6 linked regions of the Homo sapiens genome follow. The protein of the gene in region 1 purifies or fractionates together with the protein of each later gene. This does not show direct contact. Each region holds a gene or a part of one and is shown on either strand. Other genes may lie near its edges. The genes, in order: KATNAL2, KIF11, WDR62, AKAP8L, CEP97 and ASPM.

Region 1 (4,845 bases):
GTCATCACATTACCTGACTTCAAACTATACTACAAGGCCACAGTAACTAAAACAGTGTGGTACTGGTACCAAAACAGAGATATAGACCAATGTAACAGAACAGAGCCCTCAGAAATAATGCTGCATATCTACAACTATCTGATCTTTGACAAACCTGACAAAAACAAGCAATGGGGAAAGGATTCCCTATTTAATAAATGGTGCTGGGAAAACTGGCTAGCCATATGCAGAAAGCTGAAACTGGATCCCTCCCTTACACCTTATACAAAAATAAATTCAAGATGGATTAAAGACTTAAATGTTAGACCTAAAACCATAAAAACCCTAGAAGAAAACCTAGGCAATACCATTCAGGACATAGGCATGGGCAAGGACTTCATGTCTAAAACACCAAAAGCAATGGCAACAAAAGCCAAAATTGACAAATGGAATCTAATTAAACTAAAGAGCTTCTGCACAGTGAAAGAAACTAGCATCAGAGTGAACAGGCAACCTACAGAATGGGAGAAAATTTTTGCAACCTACTCATCCAACAAAGGGCTAATATCCAGAATCTACAATGAACTCAAACAAATTTACAAGAAAAAAACAAACAACCCTATCAAAAAGTGGGCAAAGGATATGAACAGACACGTCTCAAAAGAAGACATTTATGCAGCCAAAAGACACATGAAAAAATGCTCATCATCACTGGCCATCAGAGAAATACAAATCAAAACCACAATGAGATACCATCTCCCACCAGTTAGAATGTCGATCATTAAAAAGTCAGGAGACAATAGGTGCTGGAGAGGATGTGGAGCAGCTGGAACACTTTGACAATGTTGGTGGGACTGTAAACTAGTTCAACCATTGTGGAAGTCAGTGTGGCGATTCCTCAGGGATCTAGAACTAGAAATACCATTTGACCCAGCCGTCCCATTACTGGGTATATACCCAAAGGATTATAAATCATGCTGCTATAAAGACACATGCACATGTATGTATGTTTACAGAGGCACTATTCACAATAGCAAAGACTTGGAACCAACCTAAATGTCCAACAATGACAGACTGGATTAAGAAAATGTGGCACATATACACCATGGAATACTATGCAGCCATAAAAAATGATGAGTTCATGTCCTTTGTAGGGACATGGATGAAACTGGAAACCATCATTCTCAGCAAACTATCGCAAGGACAAAAAACCAAACACCACATGTTCTCACTCACAGGTGGGAATTGAACAATGAGAACACATGGACACAGGAAGGGGAACATCACACACCGGGGACGGGGACTGTTGTGGGGTGGGGGGAGGGGGGAGGGATAGCATTAGGAGATATACCTAATGCTAAATGACGAGTTAATGGGTGCAGCACACCAACATGGCACATGTATACATATGTAACAAACCTGCACGTTGTGCACATGTACCCTAAAACTTAAAGTATAATAATAATAAAATTAAAAAAAAAATAAGTTGAGATCTTACTAAAGGTCTAAAAAAAAAAAGTTCTGTATGTTGATAAGAATTTTTCTATATGGACTGAAGTGTTTACTTCAGATCTAAGGATTTAACTATATTATATATACAATATCATATATAATATTATATATTAAATATATATTATATTAATATGATATTATATATTAAATTATAAATCTTATACAGATAACCATACTGCTATGCTTTCGAAGTTTATGTTTCAACTTTTTATTATTTATTTATTTTTGAGATGGAGTTTCACTTTTGTTGCCCAGGTTGGAATGCAATGGCATGATCTCCACTCACTGCAACCTCTGCCTCCTGGGTTCAAGCGATTCTCCTGCTTCAGCCTCCCAAGTTGCTAGGATTACAGGCATGCACCACCACACTTGGCTCATTTTATTTCTTTAGCGGATAGACATGAGGTTTCACCACGTTGGTCAGGCTAGTCTCGAACTCCCGACCTCAGGCGATCCACCCACCTCAGCCTCCCGAAGTGCTGGGAATATAGGTGTGAGCCACCGCGCCCAGCCTCAACTTTTTATTTTTTAATTATTTGGTTTTTTTTTTTAAAAGGCTAGTCAAGTGATGCAGTGAAAGTGGAGAAGAAACAAATTTGTGATTAAGGTTTTCAGAATAAAAAGTTGAGGCCGGGAGCAGCGGCTCACATCAGTAATCCTAGCACTTTGGGAGGCCAAGGTGGGAGGATCATTTAAATCCAGGAGTTTGAAACAGCCTGGGCAACATGGTGAAACCCTGTCTCTACAAAAGATACAAAAATTAGCTGAGAGTGGTGGTGTGCCCGTGGTCCCAGCTACTTGGGAGGCTGAGGTACGAAGACTGCTTGAGCTGGGAGGTGAAGGTTGCAGTGAGCTGTGATCATGCCACTGCACTCTAGCCTGGGCGACAGAGTGAGACCCTGTCTCAAAAAAAAAAAAAAAAAGTGAGGAAAAATTTTTTTTTAATTCCTTGTTCAGTTTCCTTGATACTAGTTTTGGTAAAGTCTAAGACTAAGACAGTATTGGCAAAGTGTGTAGGAGTTAGGAAATGTGATATAAATAGATATATGCTTAGCAAAAGAAGTAAAGTGGCTTGGAAAACATCTGGGAGGCCTGAGCACTGTTATAGGGAGAGAGGAAGTAATCAGTGGGAAGGAAAAGAGAGATATTAAAATCAGTAAAGTCTAATGGGTTCAGAGACAGATGTGAAAGGATTAAGAAGACAGGTGCTTGGAACTAAACTCAAGGTTACATGGTTGGTCCAACCAGGTTGGAATGCTCTTTGCTAAAATTACTAGGATATATCATATGGTTCTTAATTATGTTTCTTAATGAAGTGCTTTTTTTTTTTTGTTATGTGTTTATCAGCTGTTTAGATTCAAAATCAGCTTAGCTGTTTAGATACAAAAAATTTACCATCTTTCACTTTATAAATTTACAGAGTACACTCATACACCTGATCTATCAGATCAGGTATCTCATCCTGAGATAGGTGTAGTCATTTTTCTTTTCCAGATTAGAAAAATTAAGTTGAGACTTTGCTAAAGTTACACAGCTAGTAAATGGAAAAGCTACTCCTGAGATTTTTGACTTCGTGTATTAAAATCTTATGACACTTTATGCCAGGCGCAGTAGCTCATGCCTGTAATCCCAGCACTTTGGGAGGCCAAGGCAGGTGGATCACGAGGTCAGGAGTTCAAGACTAGCCTGACCAAGACGGTGAAACCCCATCTCTACTAAAAGTACAAAAATTAGCTGGGCATGGTGGCGGGTGCCTGTAATCCCAGCTACTTGGGAGGCTGAGGCAGAGAATTGCTTAAATTCGGGGGGGCAGAGGTTGCAGTGAGCCGAGATCGTGCCACTGCACTCCAGACTGGGCAACAGAGCGAGACTCCGTCCCAAAAAGCAAAAACAGAAACAAAAAACAAACAAACAAAAAAACTTAGGACACTTTAATCACAGTACTTATAATGAATCTTCTAATTTGGAGCCATTTTAAGACGGTAGCCTAGTCAGGTAATTGCCTGGAGATTCAATCCATAAAGAGCACTAAAACATTTTACCATTGGAAATGTAATAAAGAAAAAGGATATATTTAATAGAATTCCTCTGGTAGAAGAGTTCAGCATGTGGCTGGCACTGGTACTTTGATATGTGGCCTTTTGTGAGTGATAAGATTACTGCACCTCCCTCCTTCTCCACTCCCCTTTAAGGGTATACCACATTACTATGTTATAAGGAAGTTGGATTCAAGTAAGTGCAGGGATTTCTTTTTAATGAGGATATATAAATCTAGACCAGAGCAGAAATGATCACAACAGTGAAGAGAAACATGCCCTTTCTACCCTTTACCACTCAGCCATTCCTTTGAACATATATTGAATGATTATTGGGGAGTATAGATTAGAAAAAATGCCAAATTAATAATCTGGTCTGGTGAGACAAAGTAGCACCCTATTTCAGAATTCTTTCTATTGCAACTAATAGAAATCTCAACTCAAACAATCTAAAACCTTACAAGAAAGGCATTGGCTCAAGAAAACTGGCCAGTACAGAGGCAGAGTGAGTATCAAAGTCAATGCTGAGATTTTGTGTGTGTGTGATTTTTCTGCTCACAAGAAGGGTTGGTTCTCAGGTTGGCTCTTCACTGTAGCAAAATGGCGAGTGTTCCACATGCCAGAAAGTCTTATCTCTAATCACTGAATAAATGTCCTAGGCTTCCCTCTGATTAGCCTACCTTAGGGCACGGGTCCACACTTGATCTACTTGGCAAAGCCTATAAATGCTCAGTACTAATCAGATTTATATGCCCAGTTGTGATCTAATACTGTGGCCAGAATGACATAACAGTCCTTAATGACTCAGGCCAGTCTAGGGCAGCACCTAGAACTCTTTGCAGTCAAACCTACCCAACCCATCCAGGAGCTGCTACACATTGAGGAAGGGGCAGAATGAATGCTGGGAAGCAACTACAAAGAACACTGCACGTAAGTTTCAGTGGGGCTTTGCTTTTCTTTTCTTACTGTTTTGTGTTTATGTTGGTCCTCTTTATGGGTGTAAGCTCCTCTGTGGCAGGGCTGTATTGTACTCTATTCGTCTATTCCCCGAAAACTCCTCCCACAGTGGCATTCACTTAAAGCCTACTAAACAATGTTAAATTCTACTGAGGTGTAAATCAAGGTCTACGGAGAATAAATCAAGAGTAAGAATAAGCCAAGCGAAGATCACAAAGTTAATGGTGGAGAGACAGATTTAGAACCTGGACATTGTTCATTCATTCCTTTATTCATTAAACAAATACAAGGCCAACTATTTGTTAGGCATTTATCAGCCATTATAGTCTAGTGGGTTTACAATTTTTTAACATAAAATTTT
Region 2 (4,845 bases), on another chromosome or scaffold:
AGATTTTTTTGTATTGTTTTTTTAAAGAGCTGTCTAACAATTTTAAGCATTTCAAAACAGCAAATTTATAAAAAGGGGATCAGCCTTAGAATATACACCTAAAAAGTTCTCAACGGGTTTAAGGGAAATACCCTATGTAGATGTATGAGAAAATGCTGCAGTTTTAAGTTGCCAAAAAACACACAAAAGAGCCACTCAAACATGGATGCTTTTCAGGTAGTATGATCACTACCACCTTCTGCAAGATGATCTACATACTATTAGATGCTCACAGGGTCTCAGTTTCCTCATTAAAAATCTGACTAGTAATAGAATTTATATCTATATTGATGGGAGGAATAAACACAGTGAATTGCTCAATAAATGTTAACTATTATAAGAGTTCTGTCATATTATAATAAGCTCATTTAATAAAACTTTAGACAGTCATTATTAAAGTCTTAAGAATACCAGAAGCTGTTTTTCAGATATCTGATATTTACAGATTATGGTTTGAAGGCTTGGTTTTGGTTTAAAGCCTCATATAATGAGGAACAGTTTACAGGGAAGATAAATCATGAATTACATTTATAATCAATAAGAATTAAAAGTTGTATCGATTTACTATGTTTTAAATGTCTATCAGTGAGACAGAAATAAGAGAAAGTAGGACTTGGTTTATGAAAGACAACTATCCATGCCATCCTAGAAACAACTTAGCAGGTTTTAATGTAGATACATTTTCACTTTAAATGTTATAACCATTCTTCTCTAAAGGTATGTTTTTCCAGATTCATCTTTCATCTTGATGTGAGAAAAGGACTGTTTTGTCATATTGTGGTTCTGCATGGGGTTCTAGATGTAGCAAAACTTCAAATATTAAGAGAAGTATTCTCAATTGTTCTACAATAATTACTGTTATAAGCAACAGTGGCTATGGTATTTTCAGGTTTCAGCTTTTACAGTATTCAGATTGTGTAACATAGATTAATTATCAAGTCATATCAAATCATCCTAAAACTCTCTTTCTGTACTCCCCAAGTCCGCTAAACAACATACCTGGGAATGGGTCTGCTTTATTGTCTTCAGGTCTTCAGTTAGGTTTCCACATTGCTTTTGTGACTCAACCAAGGAACAAATGGTATTTTCTTGTAGTTCATGTAGATTGTTACACAGTATACTGAGAAAGCCATCTAGTTCCTTTTTTTGATCTTCTATCTTTGAAGAAACAAAAATGAGTTTCCTTCTTAAACAACACATCAATTTTGAGATATTAAGAACATAGCATTTGTTACCTTATCGGCCACTGTCAATGAAGTCTTGAAAATATGCTTTAGTTGACTATTGATTTTCAGTATAGACACCACAGTTGGGGATAAAATCATTTCCAGTGAACTTAGAAGATCAGTCTTGAGTACATTCTGGTTTCAGAAATAAACAAATAGGTCTTTAAAAAGAATATTTCCACTTCTGTAAACCTTTCTAAATGATATCTTAAATACTTTGGTAGCTAAACATTCACATTAAAATTTACATTTCCATTCTCCATTCTTTTTTTTTTTTTTTTTTTTTGAGACGGAGTCTCATTCTGTCACCCAGGTTGGAGTACAGTGGCAACATCTTGGCTCACTGCAACCTCTGCCTCCTGGGTTCAAGTGATTCTCCTGCCTCAGCCTCCGGAGTAGCTGGGATTATAGGTGTGAGCCACCACACCCAGCTAATTTTTGTATTTTTAGTAGAGATGGGGTTTCGCCATGTTGGCCAGGCTGGTCTGGAACTCCTGACCTCAGGTGATCCGCCCCCCGTGGCCTCCCAAAGTGCTGAGATTACAGGCGTGAGCCACCGCGCCCGGCCCCATTCTCCATTTTTTATACTCTACATAGATAAATCAATACAATAATACAATAATTTATTATATTACAATAAATATAATAATTTCTCTTTTTTCAAGCCCAGTGAAAACACAGAATTTCTTTTTTTCTTTTTTTGAGATATAGTTTCACTCTCGTGGCCCAGGCTGGAGTGCAATGGCGTGATCTTGGCTCACTGCAACCTCCGCCTCCTGGGTTCAAGCGATTCACCTGCCTCAGCCTCCCAAGTAGCTGGGATTACAGGCACCTGCTACCACGCCTAGCTAATGTTTGTATTTCAGTAAAGACAGGGTTTCACCATGTTGGCCAGGCTGGTCTCGAACTCCTGACCTCAAGTGATCCACCCACCTTGGCCTCCCAAAGTGCTGAGATGAGCCACCGCACCCAGCCAGAACTATTTAATAGTTTAATGAAATAGAAGTCAGAAGAATTCAAAAGAGGAAAATGACAGTTAATAAGATTTCAGCACTCCAAACAAAATAAATTTTTAAAAACCTACAGGTATATTTTAAGAAAATAAATTTCAAACAAGTTTAGGTTACCAGTCAAAAAGGCTGAGACCAAGTAGTCATCAAGATTAGCCCTTGGGCTGGAAGTACTTAACTTTGAAGATCTGAGATGACTTACATCCTATTGTATCAGAAGAACTTGTGAAAGATGTTGTTCTTGTCAAGAAATAGGGAAATTAAGAATGTAGTATAGATTGGAAATATTTATAAAAAGAAAAAAAATCCTGATCTAATCTCCTTTTGGTAGGATAGGGCTGAGGAAGTATAACAGAAATACATTAGTAAATACTTATAGGTCTACTGACATTCTTTTGGAAAGAAGAGCTAGCATACCAATTTCAACTAATTTTGTGAGAGCAACATGCCTCTTTTCTTTTAATTCAAGCAAAAATTGTAACTTGGTAAGTAGAAATGTATCAATTCAGGCATAGCTTATTTTATTGTGCTTCACCTTACTATGTGTCACAGATACCAAATTTTTACAAATTGAAGGTTTGTGGCAACCCTACCTTGAGCACGTCTATCAGTGACTTTTTTCAAATATCATGTGCTCACTTTCTGTCTCTGCATCACATGTTGGTAACTACTACAGTATTTCTAACTTTTTCATTATACACTGTGATCAATGATCTTTGATGTTACTATTGTAATTGTCTTGGGGTACCATAAACTGTACCCCTATAAGACAGCAAATGTAACTGATAAACGTTGTGTTCTGATTGTCCCACCAGGCGTGTGCTGGAATTACAGGTGTGAGCCACTGCGCCTGGTCAACATAACCTTTATATGCACCGGGAAAGCAAAAAATTCATGACTTGCTTTATTGTAATATTCACTTTATTGCAGTGGTCTGGAAGCAAACCTGCAATATCTCTGAAGTATGCCTATATATATACAGACCACCATTTAATGAATGAATCAATATTTGAAAAGTTAGTACTGACAGGATATCTTTTAATTTTGTCAAATTTGGGTGATTGAGAAAACCTATCAAATAATGTCATCTAAGCACTGAATTGAGGCAGAGGGTCAGCTAACATTTGTAGTATTTACTTGGAAAATGTTTAATAAATATTGTTAAGCTGAAAAAGGGAGGCAAAGACTCTGCACAAAGAAAACAAATAAATTATATGGCTAAGAACTTCCTAGACCAACCATACAATTATAAAATAAAGACTATATATAAATCAAGTATGAAGGAGGTAATATTAAGTGCAATTAGATGAGTGACTTCCATAGAACTCTGGAGAAAAGATTTATAGTTATGGCCCAGAAGGGGCCACACAGATCTAACCCTAAGAAGTGATATGTGTCCCCAGAATTCTAAGATATTTTTCTTGCACCATTATTACTATCATATATTACTGTAGTTTTAAAATCAGCTACCCAATATCCCCTTCTGGTTGGGTCCAGGACCCCTGGGGAAAGAGTGACTTGCCAATTTCTGGGCCAACTAACAAGTCCCTTGATATCATGTGGTGCTAAACTTGCCCTTTAGTCATTAGAAGCCTCACTAATAACTGCTACTCCTAATGTTACAAGACATGAGTGAAAAAGGTTTCAAAAGTTAGTTCCATACATTTGAAAATAATCTTTCTGGGAGAGAATAAACAGTGGAGAGATCTGTCTTTAAAAATATAAACGTACTCTCGGCCGGGCACGGTGGCTCACGCCTGTAATCCCAGCGCTTTGGGAGGCCGAGGTGGGTGGATTGCTTGAGGTTAGGAGCTTGAGACCAGCCTGACCAACATGGTAAAACACCATCTCTACTAAAAAAAAATACGAAAATTAGCCAGGCGTGGTGGCACATGCCTATAATTCCATCTACCCGGGAGGCTGAGGCAAGAGAACTGCTTGAACCCAGGAGGCAGAGGTTGCAGTGAGCCGAGAAAAGGAGAGGCTGAAAAAAATAAATAAATACAAATAAAGAAAAGGAGAGGCTGGCTGGGCACGGTGGCTCATGCCTGTAATCCCAGCACTTTGGGAGGCCGAGGCGGGTGGATCACAAGGTCAGGAGATCAAGACCATCCTGGCTAACACGGTGAAACCCCATCTCTACTAAAAATACAAAAAATTAGCCGGGTGTGGTGGTGGGCGCCTGTAGTCCCAGCTACTCGGGAGGCTAAGGCAGGAGAATGGCATGAACCCGGGAGGTAGAGCTTGCAGTGAGCCGAGATCACGCCACTGCACTCCTGGACGACAGAGCGAGACTCCATCTCAAAACAAACAAACAAAACAAAACAAAACAAAATATATATATATGTAGTCTCTCACAGTGACGTGTCTATGACTGTGTCTAGTAAAGCTCAGGAAGAAAGAATAGCAGTTAACATTGTTTATAAAGACTTATCAAATGTAACCCTTCAAAATATTTTATCAAATACTTATCAAATGCAACCCTTCAAAAATATTTTAAAGGATGTACTAACAATCAATTCCTGTAGTACAGTTTTACTTTCTGCTGCTAATGATTGTTCTTTTAGTAT
Region 3 (4,260 bases), on another chromosome or scaffold:
AGATGGAGTCTTGCTGTCACCCAGGCTAGAGGGGAGTGGCACCATCTCTGCTGACTGCAGCCTCCACCTCTCTGGTTCAAGTGATTCTCGTGCCTCAGTCTCCCATGTAGCTGGGATTACAGGTGCCTGCTGCCATGCCTGGCCAATTTTTGTATTTTTAGTAGAGATGGGGTTTCACCATGTTGGCCAGGTTGGTCTCAAACTCCTGACCTCAGGTGATCCGCCCGCCTTGGCCTCCCAAAGCGCTGGGATTAGGGCATGAGCCACCACACCTGACCTTTTTTTTTTTTTTTTTTTTTTTGAGACAAGAGTCTCACTCTGTCGCCCTGGCCGGAGGGCAATGACGCGATCTCAGTTCACTGCAACTTCCGCCTCCCAGGTTGAAGCGATTCCCCTGCGTTCAAGCGATTCTCCTGCCTCAGCCTCTCGAGAGTAGCTGGGATTACAGGCACGCCCCCACCACACCCGGCTAATTTTTGTATTTTTAGTACAGACGGGGTTTCACCATGTTAGCCTAGGCTGAAGGCTAGGACCATAGTAGGGTCTCCAGACCTCATGGTCCTCTTCATTAAAACAACAGAAAATTCCTTCTGGGCCATCAGATGAGATCATGAGATAGGAGAAGATTTCCAAGTGAAGATTTCGTTTGTTTCAAGACAGAGTCTTGCTCTGTCACCCAGATGATATATGGATGATATATGGTAGCATTTTGTGTCCTTTTTCTTGTTTATTTTTAGCATAGAAGGTATTGCACGATGCTGGTCTCAAACTCCTGACGTCAGGTGATCCACCCGCCTTGGCCTCCCAAAATGCTGGGATTACAAGCGTGAACCACCATGCCCGGCTCCTCAAGATGTTTTCTAGGCTGGGCACGGTGGCTCATGCCTGTAATCCCAGCACTTTGGGAGTTACAGAGTTGGTGGAGTTATATCCTGATGTGATTTTCCCCATGTTCTTCTTTCGTTCTCTCATCCCCCATGCTGTGTGCCCCACCAACTTGTCTTGAAACATATCTTCACTCGGTTCGCCTCTCCTGATCTCCCCTCTGCCTCAGGTCATGTTATTAGGCCTCAGACATAGCAAGTGACCAGAGTAGGGAAGGCTGGTGGCAGATGGGAGTCTGGCCACAGGCAGTCAATAGGACCTGAACAAGGCCCAGGTAGCCAGACCTCAGAGGGTGAGAGGACACTGGTTTTGGAAGAGGCTGAGAGGTTGCCAGGGCTTTACCCAGCACAGACCCAGCAGGCAAGAGCGCTGGGCTCTGCTGGGGCGTCTGCTGTGGATGTCCCTGGAGGAGCGTCCATGCGCCCATCGAGACTCATCCTCCCTGAGCTGGTGGTGAGGAGGTGAAATGCCAGGGTGTGGGGGCTCTGGGAAAGACCACACAGAGCTAAGGGAGTGGCCCTTGCCAGGCTTGGGCCAAGTTGGCTACAGTTGAAGAACCAAAGACCCCTTCTCCGAGGACTGGGCAGCTTGGTCACACTGCCCTTCTGGGAGGCCAGGGCACCCACGCAGCCTTCAGGAACCAGTCTCATTCTCTCCTCTCACAGGGCTGACCTTGCTGGCCTCAGCCAGTCGGGACCGGCTGATCCATGTGCTGAACGTGGAGAAGAACTACAACCTGGAGCAGACGCTGGATGACCACTCCTCCTCCATCACCGCCATCAAGTTCGCTGGTGAGCCCCTTTCTTCCCGCTCCCTGCGCCTTGCTAGCTACCCTGCTAAAAAAGGATTCATTCTTTCAACTCTCCTGTAAAATATATATCCAAACAAGTGAATACAGTATCTGTGTACAGTATACAGAATAATGACTGGGGCCGGGTGTAATGGCTCACACCTGTAATCCCAACACTTTGGGAGGCCAAGGAGGGTGGATCACCTGAGGTCAGGAGTTCGGGACCTTCCTAGACAACATGGTGAAACCCCGTCTCTACTAAAAATACAAAAATTTGCTGGGCGGGGTGTTGTTTCTGTAATCCCAGCTACTCAGGAGGCCGAGGTGGGAGAATTGCTTGAACCTGGGAGGTGGAGGCTGCACTCCAGCCTAGGCAACAGAGTGAGACCCTGTCTCAAAAAAAAAAGAATAATGGCCAGGTACCATGGCTCACACCTGTAATCTCAGCACTTTGGGAGGCCAAGGCAGGTAGATCATGAGGTCAGGAGTTCGAGACCAGTCTGGCCAACATAGTGAAACCCCATCTCTACTAAAAATACAAAAAAATTAGCCAGGCATGGTGGTGTGCACCTGTAATCCCAGCTACTCGGGAGGCTGAGGCAGGAGAATTGTGTGAACCCGGGAGGCGGAGGTTGCAGTGAGCCAAGATTGCGCCAGTGACTCCACTCCAGCTTGGGTGACAATGCGAGACTTTGTCTCAAAAAAAAAAAAAAGAAGAATATAGGCCGGGCGTGGTGGCTCATGCTTGTCATCCCAGCACTTTGGGAGGCTGAGGCAGGCAGATCACCTGAAGCTAGGAGTTTAAGACCAGCCTGGCCAACATAGTGAAACCCCGTCTCTACTAAAAATTCAAAAAAAGTAACCGGGCATGGTGGTGCACACCTGTAATCCCAGCTACTTGGGAGGCTGAGGCAGGAGAATAGCTTGAATCCAGGAGGCCAAGGTTGCAGTGAGCCAAAATTGTTTCACTGCACTCCAGTCTGGGTAACAAGAGCAAAACTCCATCTCAAAAAAAATAAAAATAAAAAATAAGCTGGGCGTGGTGGCCGAAGTGAGTATCCACAGTTCTTAGGAGCAAGGTTTGAACTAGGACGTTGTTGATAGCAGAGACTGTTCTAATTGCTCATGGTCGTAATATTGTTAAATACGGTACTTGGATTCACCACGTGCAGGTTAAGAAGCAGAACATTACCAGAGGCTTGCAGGCCTTCTCTGGGTCCCTCCCAGGTTACCCTTCCTCCCTTATATGGGGCTCACTCCCTTCTGTGAGCCAATGACTCCTCCTTGAGCAACATCTAATACTTGTATGTCAGGCCTGGACCCTCTCAAATGTCCTGTCATGAAGGAGCATGTGTGATGTGCCCAGACTCAGAGTTTTATATTTGTTCTGTCATTTCATCCTCACCAAACTGTTATTCTGTAAAGAAATGAGACGGCCGGGGGCATCTCACGCCATTGCACTCCAGCCTGGGCAACAAGAGCGAAACTCTGTCTCAAAAAAAAAGAAATGAGAATAATAAAAGCAAGAATGTTTCTAATGCTTACCATGTGGCAGTCCCTGTTCCAAGGGCTTCACATCACTCTCCAGAGAAGGAACTGTCACCATGCCCATTGTACGGACCGGAAGTTGAGGCTCAAAGGGGAGGCCCAGGTTCAGAGCAGTGTTTAACAGCTTTGACCTTGGCACCAGAGAATGCCTGGGTTCAGTCCTGCCCCTGTCCTCTCTGTGTGCCTTGGGACAAGGACTCTGTGAACCTCTGTGTTCATGCTTGTCCAGTGGGATGGGTGGTGAGCATTCAGGAAGACCCGCTACATGCATGGGGCCTGGCCCAAGGCTCATGTGGATCTTGCAGTTGATCCTGATGGCACGAGCCTCCCAGCCTGTCTCCACTGGTCGCTGCTGCAGTCCTGCCTCTACTCCGCTACTCAAGTCACCTATCTCAATCCCAGACTGGAGAGGGTGTCCCTTCTTTGTCCCCAGCCTTTGTTTCTCTATATGCCCTTGCTCTGCAGAGCCTGCCTTGGCCACAGCTCCACCTGTGCCCCCTCACACGTACAGCTCATACCTTACAGAGTCCCACCCAGACCCAGCACCCACCTCACCACCTTTAGGAAGCCTTGATCCCAGCACAGTTGATTGATGGCTCTTGCAGTGGAGTTCCCCAGCTAGGGTCCCCTGCCCATGTGGCCCAGCCCTGCCTAACACACAGCGTCCTCCTCCCCTAGGCAACAGAGACATCCAGATGATCAGCTGTGGGGCTGACAAGAGCATCTACTTTCGCAGTGCCCAGCAGGTAGGGTGGCATGGCCTCCTTGGGGGCTGGGGTGGGGGGTTGTCGGGGCATTCTCTGAAGGTCCTGCCGGCCCTGCCAGGGTTCGGATGGACTACACTTTGTCCGTACCCACCACGTAGCAGAGAAAACCACCTTGTATGACATGGACATTGACATCACCCAGAAGTACGTGGCCGTGGCCTGCCAGGACCGCAATGTGAGGTAAGGGGTGGCCCTGGACCCTTAGCTGGCCTGGTCTGCCTTGTCCTAGGCTGTCTGCTTTCCTCCCTCTGTTCCTCTGGTCCCCAAGAA
Region 4 (4,845 bases), on another chromosome or scaffold:
TGCCCATCGTGGGAGGCCCTGCTTGTCCTTAAAACGTAAAGTGGTGTTCACGGAGTTGATGCTGCTTCCTTTCGTTGTGCCTCCTCACTCTGTTGTGGCAGATCCTCAGCAGGTGAAGCTTGCAGTGACCACATTGTAGCCTCCCAAGCAGAGCCCTGATGGATCTGCTTTTGCCTCCATATCCTATTTTCTTTTTCTTTTCTTTCTTTTTTTTTTTGAGACAGAGTCTCGCTCGGTCGCCTAGCCTGTAGTGCAGTGGTGCAATCTTGGCTCGCTGCAACCTCCACCTCCCAGGTTCAAGTGATTCTCCTGCCTCAGCCTCCCAAGCATCTGAGACCATAGACGCGCACCACCACACCTGGCTAATTTTTGTATTTTTAGTAGAGATGAGGTTTCACCATATTGGCCAGGCTGGTCTCGAACTCCTGACCTCGTAATCCACCCACCTTGGCCTCCCAAAGTTCTGGGATTACAGGCATGAGCCACCACGCCCAACTCCTATTTTCTTTAGAATAGCTAGTGCCCACTGTCCCTGGTACAAACAGTCACTTGGCCAGGTGTACAGTAGCTGCCTGGGCTACCTGTGTGTTGTTCTATTTTTTTTTTTTTGAAATGGAGTTTCACCGTGTCGCCCAGGCTGGAGTGCAGTGGCGCGATCTCACCTCACTGCAAACTCTGCCGCCTGGGTTCAAGCAACTGTGCCTCAGCCTCCTGAGTAGCTGGGACTACAGGTGTGCACCACCACGCCTGGCTAATTTTGTATTTTTGGTAGAGAAGGGGTTTCACCATGTTGGCCAGGCTGGTTTCAAACTCCTGACCTCAGGTGATCCGCCCGCCTCGACCTCCCGAAGTGCTGGGATTACAGGCGTGAGCCACTGCACCCAGCCTTGTGTGTTTTTCTTTATGTGGCTCTGCCAGCCTCTCTTGCCTCTTAGAATGGCTCCATTCTTTCCTCAGCTACCACTCCTGACTTACCCATGCTGCTCTCTGGCTGTTAGCATCTCTCTTACCAACAGGCAGATCTCCATGCCTGAGCAGTGCCTGGGACTGCAAGCCTCTGTTCCCTGTGCTCAGGGGATACATAAACAAATGGATGAGAAGCCTGTTTTGGTTTCTCCAGCCCAAGAGTTTTTGTTTTGTGAGCTCTCTTGTTAAACATAGTGGTCATCAGCAGTTCCTCAGCTTCTCTCTGATTTCTTCCCATTCTTTTTGTGCACTGGGTCGTGGAGGAACCCAAGTGCAGGACGACAGCCTGCCTGTTCTCTCTGGCTCATCTTTTCAGTTGACTTACACTCTTCCTGCTGTGGTCTGGCTTCTGCCACTTATTGCCCTGCTGTCTGTCTCACTGAGCTTCGGTCCCCTGCCCTGGGATGAGCATGTCCTCTGCGGGGCAGAGATGACATGGAATGGGAAACAACTGTTGGGTCTCACCAGAGACCCAGGGAAAGGGGTCACCTGCTCTGTGCCCTCCTTTGGGGAGGAACTGTGTGTTTGACTCAGAGTTCCCAGGGGACTTTACACTTTGTCACTTCTCAGTGGCTTTATGTTACTGAAGGAATGAGGTTTTATCATGTGTTGTGATTGAATCCAGAGCATATTAAGTTGATAATCCAGATTGTTCTCTCCACAGCTTTTCTCAAGCGAGGGGTTGCTTCTTGGGCTTCTCTCACTGATGTGTTCCAGCACAGCACAGTCAACAATTCAAGGGCTTGTTGGCCCTCCCTTTTAAGGCAGACTCTTGGGAGACTGGGGTTGGGTTTTCTGCTATAAACTGATTAGCACTTAGCTTGGGGTGTGGAGGTCACCTTCTAATTCTGGCTCTTAAAGGGAGGAGTATAGGAGCCAAGTTCCTTAGTTGAGAGTGTTGGGAACAGAAGGATCCTTAAATAACAGATGCTCAGAGCCACAGGCAGCCAGGCACCAGGGCAGCAAGTGGCCTGGGTCATTTGCGCAGTGCTCGCGAGCTCAAGGCTTCTCGGTTAGGGGAGGTGCAGCCTGCTCTGACCAGTCAGGTCCTGGGAATAATTGTCTGCGCCTGAATTATGGCCTTGTATTGTAAGCAAGTATAGATGTAACTGCCCTTTTACTTTTTGTAGGATATGGAACTTGGAACTCTGGGACAAATAGAGGCAAGTGTCATTCCTGTGATTGCTGTCCTGTCCCTTGGGGTTGTCCTGGCTGTGTTTCTCTGCCACTGCCCTGCTTGGCCAAGGTTGGGAGTGGGGAGGGGGCATGTTTCTGGGGTTACCTACTCCTTAACAGGAGGCCCTCATCAGAATGACCAGGGCCCATCTAGCTTCAGTGGCTAGGGTCTTCTCTCTCTGTGACAGAAGATACCCTTGTATCTGTGTTTGTCTCTGTCTCTGTCTGCCTCCCCTCTGCCTGCCCCCACCATCTGTCTGTCTCTGTCTCCCTCACTGCAGGCTACGAGGGCTATGGCTATGGCTATGGCTATGGCCAGGATAACACCACCAACTATGGGTATGGTATGGCCACTTCACACTCTTGGGAAATGCCTAGCTCTGACACAAATGCAAACACTAGTGCCTCGGGTAGCGCCAGTGCCGATTCCGTTTTATCCAGAATTAACCAGCGCTTAGATATGGTGCCGCATTTGGAGACAGACATGATGCAAGGAGGCGTGTACGGCTCAGGTGGAGAAAGGTGAGTGGACACCTGCCTAGGGGTTGAGACTCTGCAGGGGCGGCTCCTGCCTGCTGCCCACTGCGTTTTCCTCTCTGAGTGCCCCTCTGTGTCTGCTTCCTCCCCGCTGCTTGGTGCTGCTGTGGCTCCCAGCAGGGTCCGTTGCACTTCCCGTCTCTGACTTGTGTCTCCTCTCACCCACCCTCAACCCCTGCCGCACTGCCTGGTGGTCAGCCTTTCCCAGCTTGCGGTGAGAGGAACAAGCCCAGACTGGGCAGACTTCACTGTGCCCTCAAAAACAGAGTGTTCAGCCACCCCTCCCTCCAAGGACAGCCATTTGGAATTCTCTCGAGACTTTGCCTCCTGCGTGGTGTCAGGGCAGGACAGATGGAGTTTGGTGTGAAGGGTGGGACGAGCGTTTGGGGCTGATCACTGCGAGCTGGGCCACCCCCACGTAAGGGTCGGGGCAGGTGTGGGCATTTCCTGGTTACTCTCCTGTGCCTTACAAACATGTACCTGATGGAAGCACTCCTGTGAGGAACTGCTGCTGTCCTCATTTTGCAGGTGGGGATACAGAAGTGCAGGCAGGTCATACCCTGAAGGCACGCAGCAAGTACTTGGTGGGGCTGGGCCTCGCCTACCAGATCTGCCCTACTCCAAAGCATCATGCTGTGGGCATTTGTTATTAACTGAACTGGACTTGGCCCAGGAGTGCTTATGCCCAGTGCGAGGCTTTGGTGAGGAGCGTGGGTGTATCTCTAACATGGGATAGAGTGGAGCACCAGCTAACAGATGAGTGAGAGCCAAGAGTAAGGAGTTGCCTGGCTGAGCACTGATAGGGCCAAGGGAGGCCCCAGGGCTGTGGTGGCAGGGTGTGGAACAGGCACAAGGGGATTTGATGCCATGGGCTCTGTAACTCCTGGCCCAACAGCTGCAGCACTCAGAGCTGAGGGCTTGGCATGTGAGGCTTGGCCTTGCGTTGCTGCTATGCACCTTCTTACCACAGCCTGGAGCCTGGGATCGGGGTAAGCAGAGCAGCGGCAGCACCAACTGCTGCTCTTAGAGCTGCCGGTGCCTCTTGGTGGCCCAGGTTTAGGGAAGAGTGTGCAAGGGGAGCCCCTGTGCCTGTGAGGTGTGTGGGGTCCAGGCCTGTAGGGGTGTGGGCTGCGGGCTGCAGTCACGGTTAAAAGAGCTCTCTGCGGTGCCCTCTGTGTCCTGGGAGGAGGTCTGGCCTGCCTTCCCAGTTGCAATACAGGGTATATAGAGTTTGGTGTCTGGCTCTGGGCTCCAGGGTTGATGTAATACAGCTCTTTTTCTTGTCCCTGGGCAAGCTCTCAGTGTCTTCCCTGGGAAATACTCCCCCTTTTGTCTCAGTTGTTTTGGTAATGAGGGACTTTGCAGAGTTTGAAGGTTCCCCAGCCATGAGGGACAAGAACAGTGTTTCCCATGGGTATCATCAGCCTCACTGGCTGCGCATTCATTGTGCTGGACCTGCCTGCATCCTGCAGGGTGCTGGGGTGCTCAGCCTTGCCCTGTGAGGAGCAGCCTTGGGCGTTGCAGCTCCCACAGATGGTGTACATGTTCCCAAAGGGCTGTGGAGCAGCTCTGCCCCTTGTTGAGACTCACTGGACTAGAGCCTCCACCCCAGTTATCAGTCCTTCAGTCCTTCTTAGGGTCCCCAAGCCAGTGTGTGGCTACATTCAAGTTTGGGGCAGTGGTGCCCCTATATCAGCTGAGAGGCTGGAACTCTTTAATCGGCATTTCTGAACATTGAGCCTCCCAACCAGGGCAGGGTGGGTGCTGGACTGGGAGATTGGGGAGGGCAGGAGCAGTTGCCTGGAGGTGAGGGATCCTGAGGGGCTCCACCTGATGCTCACCCCATGCCTCTGCAGGTATGACTCTTATGAGTCCTGCGACTCGAGGGCCGTCCTGAGTGAGCGCGACCTGTACCGGTCAGGCTATGACTACAGCGAGCTTGACCCTGAGATGGAAATGGCCTATGAGGGCCAATACGATGCCTACCGCGACCAGTTCCGCATGCGTGGCAACGACACCTTCGGTCCCAGGGCACAGGGCTGGGCCCGGGATGCCCGGAGCGGCCGGCCAATGGCCTCAGGCTATGGGCGCATGTGGGAAGACCCCATGGGGGCCCGGGGCCAGTGCATGTCTGGTGCCTCTCGGCTGCCCTCCCTCTTCTCCCAG
Region 5 (4,845 bases), on another chromosome or scaffold:
ACTCTATATCTCTCATCTACAAAAGAGAATGTTCCTTTAATCTAGATTCTCCTCCAGACACCACTTAACTCTCTTTTCTCTTGTTTTCCTCAAAACAACTCTTTCCAAGAATTGGCTACACTCATCCTTCAAACTCTTTACCTCTCATTCACTATTCAACCCATTCCAAAATGGCCTTCATCCCTCTACACCACTGAAGCTGCTCTTGGGAAGGTCACTGTGCAGTAAAGAGTTAACTCAGCAGGATGGGGATGTTCAAACACTGTACATTGCAAAGATAAGACTGGCCCTTGACTGACTCCTGGGAGATAATCTCCAAGCCCTTGGAATATCCTGACTGAAAAAGAATATCTTTATACACCTGGGGTCTTGGTCACATCAGATAGTTTAGGCAATCAATGATTTCTAGTCAACATCTGTTTTGTTCGCCTGGGGTCCTGGGTCCTGGGCCATGGAGTATCAGTGTGACCTCTATGTGGTCTGAGGTGTAAATAGTTAAGATCAGTTACATGGGTACTCAATACCTATGTGACTGGCCCACAATAAAAACCCTGGACACCAAAGATGAGGTAACTTTCGTCAGTTGGCAATACTTCATATGTGTTATCATACATCATTGCTGAGAAAATTAAGCCCTGTCTGTACAACTCCACTGAAAGAGAACAACTGGAAGCTTGCACCTCATGTCTCCTAGACTCTGCCCTAGGCACCTTTTTTCTTTACTGATTCTAATCTGTATCCTTTTGCTGTAATGAACCATAATGACGAACAGAATAGTATTTTCCCAAGTTCTGTGAGTCCTTTTAGCAAATCATCCAACCTGAGGATAGTCTGGAGAATCACCAACACAGTCACCAATAGCCTCCAACTGCCAAGTTTAATGCCTGTGTCCTCTCTGTGGCACCTCTCATCTCTCCTGAAACACTTGCTCCTGTTGAAGGTGGAACTCTCCTAGTTTTCCTACCACTCTGGCTGTCCCTTCTCAGTATCCTTTGCTGCCTCTTTCTCTTCTACCTGATAATACCAGTAAATATTACTAGTTGCAATATTAATGAAATCCTAACTTTCCTGGGCTAGCAGTCAGTAAAACATACGAGCCATGGGATTAAGGAATAATTCCTATTGTAGTCATATAGAATTTTAGCCCCTTCTGAATCCCTGCTATTTTCTTTATTTCTTATGTCATGTACTGAATTCCATGTAGACTTCATCATCTTCTCATTTTTATACTTGGTTTTTCAATGTTTTCTGTACCTTTCTATGTTTAGAATTATAGATCCCTATAAAGCTCACGTTCATTGAACATTTATTACTACACTGCATCTATGTATCAAGTGCTTTGCTGGGGATGGAGATGAGGAGATAGAGCAGATAGTGTCTGCTCTCCAGATGCTTTCGGTACACTGTAGGAGACAACCAAAGCAACAGTGGCTACATTGTGTGAAAAGTGTTATAATCACAGAAGCACAGTGTTCTGAATCAACTATAAGAATCTAACACCCTCAAACCAACAAAACAGTGCATCAAAAGGACTTCTGACCCACCTCCTTATTTCATCAGTTAAGCAGACAATGTGCTCTTGCATTCTGCGTAGCCGGATTTCGTAACGCACATCTTTGGCTTGAGGGTTGTAGTTCCTGGCATAAAATCCCCGCCAACAGGCCTGAAGCTTGGTGGCTGCATCATTTAATTTCTGAAGGGCAACTTTGTCTTGTCCCAAAGCAACAGATCTCTGGGTTAAAATCATGGGAAGTTTCTCTGAAGTTGCTTGAGATATGGTTTCTTTATTTTCTGGTTGTGTATTTTCTGGTTTCTTTATGTCTGATTGTTTCTGCTCAGTTGACTCAGGAAAAAATGTAAGACTGTGGTTATCATCCTTCAAGATAGCACTGATTATTGTTGGCTCAGGACAAGGTAATAGTCCAGCTTTCTCATTTACCTCTGTATTGATTTCACTTCTCATCATTTGAACAGAATTCTCATTTGCAGCCCATAAAGGCTGTTCCTCTTCCTTATCCAACACCTGGCTTTCCAGCCCTTTCACAGATTCATCTGCAACACCATCATCTTCTAGGCCCAAGTTAATGCCCTGCAGCCTCAGCTCAACTGTAGGTGATAGTGGAGACAGTCCTGATGCAACTGGCATAAAAGTAGACTCTGAAGAGAGAAGACTACAGTTTAACTTGTCCTCATCCGTCTGTATGTCTTCCAGGTGCAGATCATTTCGAGAATATCTCGTAGTGTGTACAGAGGCTGGAAAATTATTCTTAACCGCAAATAACTGATCATCATTACTGTTTATCCCAACCCAAGAATTCACTTGAATGACGGGTTCTAGAAGAATCAACAGAGTATCATTTAAACCACTAAATGTTTACATTTTAGTTATGTCCCTTTAATGAAATCTATTCCTTGAAATAGAGTAAAATGCAAAAAAATCCCCTCAGTGACTTCTTCCAATATGCCGAAAACATCAAACCAAACATTTTTAAGAAAATGAATTCTTGTGATAATCATAAGAATAATCAAAGCATCAGGTCTATATAAAAGGTAGTAGTCCTTGAAATGTTTCTTAAAATTAGAAATATAGCAGTTATAATATACATACATATATAGGTGTGTTTATACATAGATATGTATAAGATCTAAATGATTACTGAAGTTAGTAAACTAACAAAAAATTATGAAAATATGCACCTTTTTCTGCTTTATGATACCCGACAAATTAAACAACTTGGAGAAAAGGGATCAGAGATAAATTCATTTCTTACCACTTTCCTGGGATATCTGGCAATCTTGAACAGGGCTTGAATGCTCAGGAATAAGGGATGCCCTTGTTTCAACAGGAACAAGAGGAGACAACTCTTCATTTTGGCTTTGGTTCATCAACTGCCTCTGGTGAAACCTAAAAATCAATAATACCTGGTCTAATTTAACACAAACCAAAAAAAGAAAGATTTTCTGCTTCCTAGGTAACAATGTCAAAAAGGCAGAAGTTTACAAGTTCTCAAAGTAGGTACTTTTAATTAATGCCAAATTATAAATCCTCATTTGAAAGCACTGGATAAAGAAAGTTAAGAAGCTTATTTTGTAATTGCAAAGACAGACCCTACTATGCACACATACACACATACAAAAACATTTAAAGGCAGGATCTCTGATAAAGAAAGTAAATATTAAATGCTTCTGGCAATACTTTTTCTCTTTTTTTTCACTGTACCCTTTGAAGGCAGATATACCTCTTAAGTATTCAAAAACCCACAAGAAACACCTACATTAAAGAACAAATAGGTCGGGCACGGTGTCGCGCACCTGTAATCCCAGCACTTTGGGAGGCCAAGGCAGGTGGATCGCTGGAGCTCAGGAGTTCAAGATCAGCCTGAGCAACATGATGAAACCCCATCTCTACAAAAAATATAAAAAATTAGCCGAGGCTTGGTGGTGCGTGCCTGTAGTCCCAGCTACAGGCACGGACTGAAGGGGGTCTGAAGAGGGAGGATCATTTGAGCCCAGGAGACTGAAGATGCAAGGAGCTGAGATCACACCACTGCACTCCAACCTGGGTGACAAAGTGAGCTCCTGCCTCAAAAAAGAAAAAAGGGGGAGGGGTGGCAGACGCAGTAGCTCATGACTGTAATCCCAGCACTTTGGGAGGCCAAGGCGGGCAGATCACCTGAGGTTAGGAGTTCAAGACCAGCCTGGCTAACATGGCAAAAACCCATCTCTACTAAAAATAAAATATTAGCTAGGTGTGGTGGCGCATGCCTGTAATCCCAGCTACTCAGGAGGCTTAGACCCGAGAATCATTTGAACTGGGAGATGGAGGTTGCAATGAGCTGAGATCACACCACAGCACTCCAGCCTGGGCAACAGAGTGATATTATGTCTTAAAAAAAAAAAAAGAACAAATATATTTTTTAAAAATCCTATCCCGTTTCCTGGTGTAGTAGCTCATACCTATTATCCTAGCACTTTAGGAGGCCGAAGCAGGAGAACTGCTTGAAGCCAAGAGTTTAAAATCAGACTGAGGAACAAAGTGAGACCTCATCTCTACAAAAAATTAGCCAACCATGGTGGCATGCACCTGTAGTTGCAACTGCAGTGACCTATGACTGCACTGCTGTACTCACAGACCAAGAGACCAAGACCCTGTCTTTAAAACAAAAAAACCCCTCTATTCCTCCATACCATATTGTTTGGCTGTTTGCAGTGCACGATTCAGCTTCCCTGCAGGAACTGTTGCAGTGACAAGGGGACTGAGTGTCCAGAAATGTGGGCCGCAGCACTTGCCTCAGGCTTACTATCACCATAGCAAAGACTCAGAGGTATTTTAACTTGTGAATTCATCAGTTGTTAGAAATAAATGGGCTTACCTCTGTTTGCTCAAAATCTTCTCTAGTTTGGCATCCTCTGCAGTTTGAAGACCTAGTGTAGAAGTGAGGGGGCAGACTGTAGCCAGATATTGGACAAGCTGGATGTGCTGGCCAGGCCGATATGCTCTCCCCTTGCCTTGACTATAGAGCCATTCAGCTTTCAAACTGGAATTGGGGAACATAAAAAAGAGGAGATGGCATGAGAATAGTCAACACACATTGTCAGGCAACAATGATCTTCCTTGTTAACTTACCTTTATAGCACCATTGTATGTTTTTCATAAATAAAATTCACTCAATTTTTTTAAAAAATCTATCATTCTGACTCATATTCACCATTCTAATAATGTTTCAAACCCTTTTTCTTGCTTAGGGGCACTTCCATTGAGCTTGGACTAATGGTGCCAAATATTTTTAAATCATTTTCAAGGAAGCAATGAGTATTCTCCCCATTCATTCTGTCACACTGAAA
Region 6 (5,388 bases), on another chromosome or scaffold:
GAAAGAGGGTGGGAAAAACTGGCTTGCTGAGTCTTCTGGCTTCCATCTTTCTCCCACGCTGAATGCTTTCTTCTGTTCCTACTGCCTTTGGACATCAGACTGCAGGTTCTCTGGCCTTTGGACTCTTGGAATCACACCAGTGGTTTGCTGGGGGCTCTCAGGCCTTTAGACACAGGCTCAAGGCTGAACTGCTGGCTTCCTTGCTTTTGAGACTGTTGGATTCAAATTGAGCCACTACTGGCTTCTTTCTTCTCCGGCTTGCAGACGGCTTATCCTAAGACTTCTCCATTTGATCACGTGAGCCAATTCTCCCTAATGAATTTCCTTTCATGTATACATATATACTATTAGTTCTTTCCCTCTGGAGAGCCCTGACTAATACAGATTTTGGTACCAGTAGTTGTTCTAGAGGAACAGAGTTTTAAGGATGGATTTCTTTAGCTGGTTTTGGGGTTTCTGGAGTTGGCTGTTTAATCTGATTAGATCCAAAAATGCTAAGGACTCTATTTCTAATAGTATGGAGAACACTGATAGTTTTTTATGTGAATTGTTTAGAGAGTTATGCAAAATAAATGCATTTGATACTCCTTATTAACTGCTCCTGAGAAGCAAGGAGTTTAGTGTCTCTATAAATAATACCTTTGACCATATGTGGAGAACCAAGGAATATAATGAAGTTAGTTGATACTCCTAAGTTCACTGAACAAAGTGATGAAAGAAAAGGATGAGCCCAGGGATTCTAACTCCCATGGGCAGACTTTGAGACTCTATTCAGATTTCAGCCATAAGAATTAGACATCTGTGGCCCTGAAACCACAGATACTAGTAATAGTGACTCAAAGAGTAGAAAAAAAATCACATTTCAATACTGAATCATTTTCAGGTCTGTGGTGTATAACTACACAACAAGATTCTATTATAAGCAATAGCATGTTCCTTCCACTTCAAATTATAACCCCCATCAGTTCAATGGTAAGAATTTTTAGTAAATACAGTGGTGGGTGTATTCTTTTTGTGAGCCTAGAAGGGCTCACTTGCTTATCTGGATGCTTTAGCCAGTCAAGGATATAGATAAGGATGCCATTGATATGAATTTGTGAGATTATTTTATCCTAGTCTCACTTCTTAGTGAGTAGACAGAACTTCAATTTCTAACATTTGTTTTATGAAAATTCCTCAACTTACCTATAAAAAAGGTGTAATCAGCTATTATTTCCTTTTAGTAATAAGATTACATTGAAACTACTATAATACTTTAAGATAATAGACAGGAATAATATAATCATCTTATGACATATTAGTTTATTACATGCATAAAACTATAAATGATAAAAATGAAGAATGTAATGAACAGTTTATGTTTTTTTAAAACAAAGTCAGATTTTAAAAGTTGTACACGGAGAGCAAAAATCACTTTACGTACTCATGATTGGCTTTAATATTTCTTTACACTATACATACTGAAAATGTTTACATTTACTAATAAGGAATGCCAAGCGTATCCATCACCATTTGAATAGCTTGCAGGGGATTTGTGATTTCTTCCATGTTATCTCTTCTCAAAACCCAATCTGGCTTAAGTCTGTTAAAAAAAAAAAAAAAGTCTGGCATTAATAAAGTTCTTCTCTTTAGAGTTACCTTCACCTTTTTTCTCTTAACTAAATTGTAGCTACTCCTGAACACATCATTTCCCTTACAAACTGCTCAAAGAGGTGGGAGAACTTCATATTATTGCCCATCACTAGTTCCAGACTATTTCTCTCCATCCTTTCTAAAAAATAATGCTGGCTTCTTTGAAGCTTATGCTATTTAGCTTGACCACTGCCTTTTGGTCATCAGCCAAACTCTCAGTGTCTTATTCCTTGTAAACCTGGTTCTTGTTCTCCTCTTACCTACTGTCACCGTTCTCAGCAACAGCAACATCTATGTGGCCAAAAAGCCAACAACCTAGTCCGTTTTTGCCCCACTTTCCTTCAATTCTACCTCAACCAATCCTTTTTAATATGATCACATACTAGACTTTGTCATCATCAGAAAGTGTGCGACCACTGAAATCTTGAGACTTCCATTCTCCATCCACCATTTCTGATTCATCCATGTCATATGCTCTAACACAGTCATTGAACCAGTTCTTCTACCCCACTGAGATCTCCACTTCATTTGGCCTCAACACATACCCAACATCCACCAGAATGCTGTCCTTACTTTCCTGTGTATCTAGCTCAGGTGCATCAGTATTATCAAAACCTTTGCAAATGCCATTAACTGTTGTCTCTCTCTCCTACCAAACTAGTCTGAAGAATTCTACTTGGATTTCAAATTGAGTCAAAATATCTGCCTTCTCCATTCCTATACAGCTGCATATTACTAAAAATGTTTACACAACCAAGCTGATTTTATTTTTTGCCAATAATTACAAATCTAAAATGAGCATTTGAAATTGCCAGCATGCTCCCTTTCTCTCCAAGATGACTATCTTGGTCCTTTCCTCTTTTCAAACTTCCCCTCCATACCCTCTGAGCTGCTTCTGAGTTGTTGAGTTTATAATCTCAAACTTATTGAGAAAATAGTATCAAACCGAGGGAGTTCATGCATCTTCTCACATAATTCCCTACTATATGCATTTCCATCATCTTATTTTGTCCTGCTAAAAATCCAAAGATATATCAATTGGTGAGTGAACAAAGTGTGGTACGACCATACAATGGAATAGTACTAAGTGATAGAAAGGAATGAAATTCAAATCCATGCATAAACATGAACGAATTTCAAAAGCATTATGCTAAGGAAAAGAATCCAGTCACAAAAAGCTATCTACTATATGATTCCATATATGTGACAGTATAGAAATGGCAAAACTAAAGGTACAAAAATCAGATCAGTAGTTCCCAAAATCCAGGGAATAAAGAAAGAGAACTGACAACAAAGGGGCATAAGGAAACTTTGTGTTACAGAAATATTTTGTATCTCAGTGGTGGTAGTTTCCTAACTGTATACATTTGTCAAAACGAATTGAATTGCATACATTTAAAGGATGCATTTATACTGTCAGTAAATTTTACCTCAAAAGCCTGACCTACATCAAAATTTTAAGAGAATCCATTCATATGTTAGTATGAGCTTTTAAAACATAATGAATATTAAATTCTACCAAGTCCTTAAAAAACATGTAGAAATGGTCCCATTAATATATTTCAAGCAAATGAACTTTACATTATGCTGTGAAATATGCATGCATAAAACCAATTTATAACTACATTATACAGTTTATAATTATGAGTATAATTATAAAGCTAATGGCTGTGTAACCACTCAGGTCAAGAAATAGTGTGTTGTCAATAATGTAGGATTTGTACCTAGTATAGAGAATTGCTAAGTCTCAAGAAGGAAAGAAGGAAGGAAGGGAGGGAGAGAGGGAGAAGGGGGAAGAAAAAAAGGAGGAGGGAGAAAGAAGGAAGGGAGTAAAAACACTAATTAAATGCCATGACGGTTCACCAAAATAAATTAAATCTTTTTGCCAATAAAATCAGAAAATGTCAATCTAAATTTCCAGAAGGAGAAATTTCAAGAATCAGGGTGATTATGGGAGGACTGGAGGTTGATATTTTGGCTAAGAAGGACTTTTGGCACTTCTTAAACAGTGTAGTTTGTCTTTCATGCAAAATAAAATAAATAAAATAAAATGACAAAACTTATAACAAGCTTCTTAGCCTTAGCTCTTAACTATTTAATATAAGAAGTTTGTTGAATAACTATTAAATGTCCAAAGCTACAGTATAATGTTATTTCTTTATTTACCAAGACTGCTTCTTTTAAATTTACCAAACATTCCATTCTTATTCATATGTTGTTTCTCCACTGAAAAGCACATCTTGTTTATGGTAAGTGCTCAATAAATATTTGTTAAATGAATGAATGAACAGTGACACAAATTTATGGACTATATTTAATTGCTTACCTTGAAACTATTCTGGTCCTTACAGGTGTTTCTGGGATAAAAGGAATGCTTATAGAAGAATTCTTCTTTTGCTTGTAAAGTATTCTTTCAGTATTCATTTTATGTTTATGAGCTGTAAGTTTGTAGAGACTGTAAATACGGTCAACAACTTTGGACCTACTTCGTACATCCTACAAAATAAAATGCACAGTTACTAAAAAGTAATAAGAATTAAAATTTTATCTCTTTTAGACTAGCAAAATCAAATATAATAAAAACTATGCAGTAAACCTTTTTTTTTTCTTTTTTGAGATGGTCTCTCTTGCTCTGTCGCCCAGGCTGAAGTGCAGTGGTGCGATCTTAGCTCAATGCAATCTCTGCCTCCCGGGTTCACGCCATTCTCCTGCCTCAGTCTCCCAAGTAGCTGGGATTACAGGCACCCGCCACCACACCCGGCTAATTTTTTTTGTATTTTTAGTAGAGATGGAGTTTCACCGTGTGAGCCAGGATGGTCTCAATCTCCTGACCTCGTGATCTGCCTACCTCAGCCTCCCAAAGTGCTGGGATTACAGGCGTGAGCCACCGTGCCCAGCCTGCAGTAAACTTTTAAGCTTTGAATAATCAAAGAAACCTCACCAAGTTTGGCAGGTAGATTGATTTAAATTACGAGCTAATTTGCAAGGCAATTATAAGGAAGATAAATATTCAAAAGTTGCATACTTAACTCCACACTGAATATAAGAAGGAATTATTATAGTCAACATAGCAATTATAGTCAACACACCTATCATATCCAGTTACCAAGTCTTGAAAAGTTTACCTCTGCAGTTTCCAAAGTCTTCTACTTACCTCTCAGCGACACAATCCTAAGACAAGCACAATCTCTTGCCTAGATCACTACATATCAACACTTGCCACCTTCTTTGATGGTCTCACTATATCCACACATGCTCTCCCAAATTCATTCTTCAATCAGAAGCCAGAGTGTTGTTAAAATTTAAATTGGAAAATATTATTCCCTTGCTTTACCCTGCAGCGGTTCCCACTTACCAGGATAAAGGCCACAGTCCAATTATGGCCTATGGTTTCCCCATGTTAATTATGACACTTAAAAAGAATGACTCAGAGGTCTCATCGTAGAAAAGCTTGAAATACAATTATGGTTACAACAGGAGGATAAGAAGTTATACCTATCTGGTTTTCTATCTTGCTAGGATACTTTTCTCTCTAGTAAATGGGAAATGGTTACTTATATGGCTGTAATAAATTTATTTTCAGAATTCAGTTTCTTTAATAGTCAGAAAGAAACAACTCATAGATACATCCTGAATTCATTTTATCCGTGCAAAAAGCAGGTTTGAACACACATAAAACCCTATTTTAGAGTGATAATTACTAAAGGAAAACTATAAAAGTCATAGACTTAAGACCACAGAAAAATAATCTTAAAG

Evidence for each region.
Region 2: the proteins of KATNAL2 (region 1) and KIF11 purify together in Homo sapiens (tandem affinity purification; one large-scale study listed by IntAct). This does not show direct contact.
Region 3: the proteins of KATNAL2 (region 1) and WDR62 purify together in Homo sapiens (tandem affinity purification; one large-scale study listed by IntAct). This does not show direct contact.
Region 4: the proteins of KATNAL2 (region 1) and AKAP8L fractionate together in Homo sapiens (co-fractionation; one large-scale study listed by BioGRID). This does not show direct contact.
Region 5: the proteins of KATNAL2 (region 1) and CEP97 purify together in Homo sapiens (tandem affinity purification; one large-scale study listed by IntAct). This does not show direct contact.
Region 6: the proteins of KATNAL2 (region 1) and ASPM purify together in Homo sapiens (tandem affinity purification; one large-scale study listed by IntAct). This does not show direct contact.

Annotation. Positions count from the first base shown.
Region 1 is NC_000018.10:46,919,671-46,924,515, reverse strand, and holds part of KATNAL2 (katanin p60 ATPase-containing subunit A-like 2), read right to left. Parts: intron 4,458-4,845; coding exon of another isoform or gene 4,422-4,457; exon of another isoform or gene 4,371-4,421; intron 1-4,370.
Region 2 is NC_000010.11:92,633,739-92,638,583, reverse strand, and holds part of KIF11 (kinesin-like protein KIF11), read right to left. Parts: coding exon 4,789-4,845; intron 1,401-4,788; coding exon 1,275-1,400; intron 1,198-1,274; coding exon 1,039-1,197; intron 1-1,038. UniProt on the Homo sapiens protein: Motor protein required for establishing a bipolar spindle and thus contributing to chromosome congression during mitosis. Required in non-mitotic cells for transport of secretory proteins from the Golgi complex to the cell surface.
Region 3 is NC_000019.10:36,085,137-36,089,396, forward strand, and holds part of WDR62 (WD repeat-containing protein 62), read left to right. Parts: intron 1-1,550; coding exon 1,551-1,676; intron 1,677-3,901; coding exon 3,902-3,969; intron 3,970-4,048; coding exon 4,049-4,170; intron 4,171-4,260. UniProt on the Homo sapiens protein: Required for cerebral cortical development. Plays a role in neuronal proliferation and migration.
Region 4 is NC_000019.10:15,401,294-15,406,138, reverse strand, and holds part of AKAP8L (A-kinase anchor protein 8-like), read left to right. Parts: intron 1-2,096; coding exon 2,097-2,129; intron 2,130-2,423; coding exon 2,424-2,664; intron 2,665-4,535; coding exon 4,536-4,845. UniProt on the Homo sapiens protein: Could play a role in constitutive transport element (CTE)-mediated gene expression by association with DHX9. Increases CTE-dependent nuclear unspliced mRNA export.
Region 5 is NC_000003.12:101,755,123-101,759,967, reverse strand, and holds part of CEP97 (centrosomal protein of 97 kDa), read right to left. Parts: intron 4,539-4,845; coding exon 4,374-4,538; intron 2,906-4,373; coding exon 2,772-2,905; intron 2,335-2,771; coding exon 1,545-2,334; intron 1-1,544. UniProt on the Homo sapiens protein: Acts as a key negative regulator of ciliogenesis in collaboration with CCP110 by capping the mother centriole thereby preventing cilia formation. Required for recruitment of CCP110 to the centrosome.
Region 6 is NC_000001.11:197,082,845-197,088,232, forward strand, and holds the end of ASPM (abnormal spindle-like microcephaly-associated protein), read right to left. Parts: intron 4,129-5,388; coding exon 3,959-4,128; intron 1,583-3,958; coding exon 1,480-1,582; 3' UTR 1,283-1,479; downstream 1-1,282. UniProt on the Homo sapiens protein: Involved in mitotic spindle regulation and coordination of mitotic processes.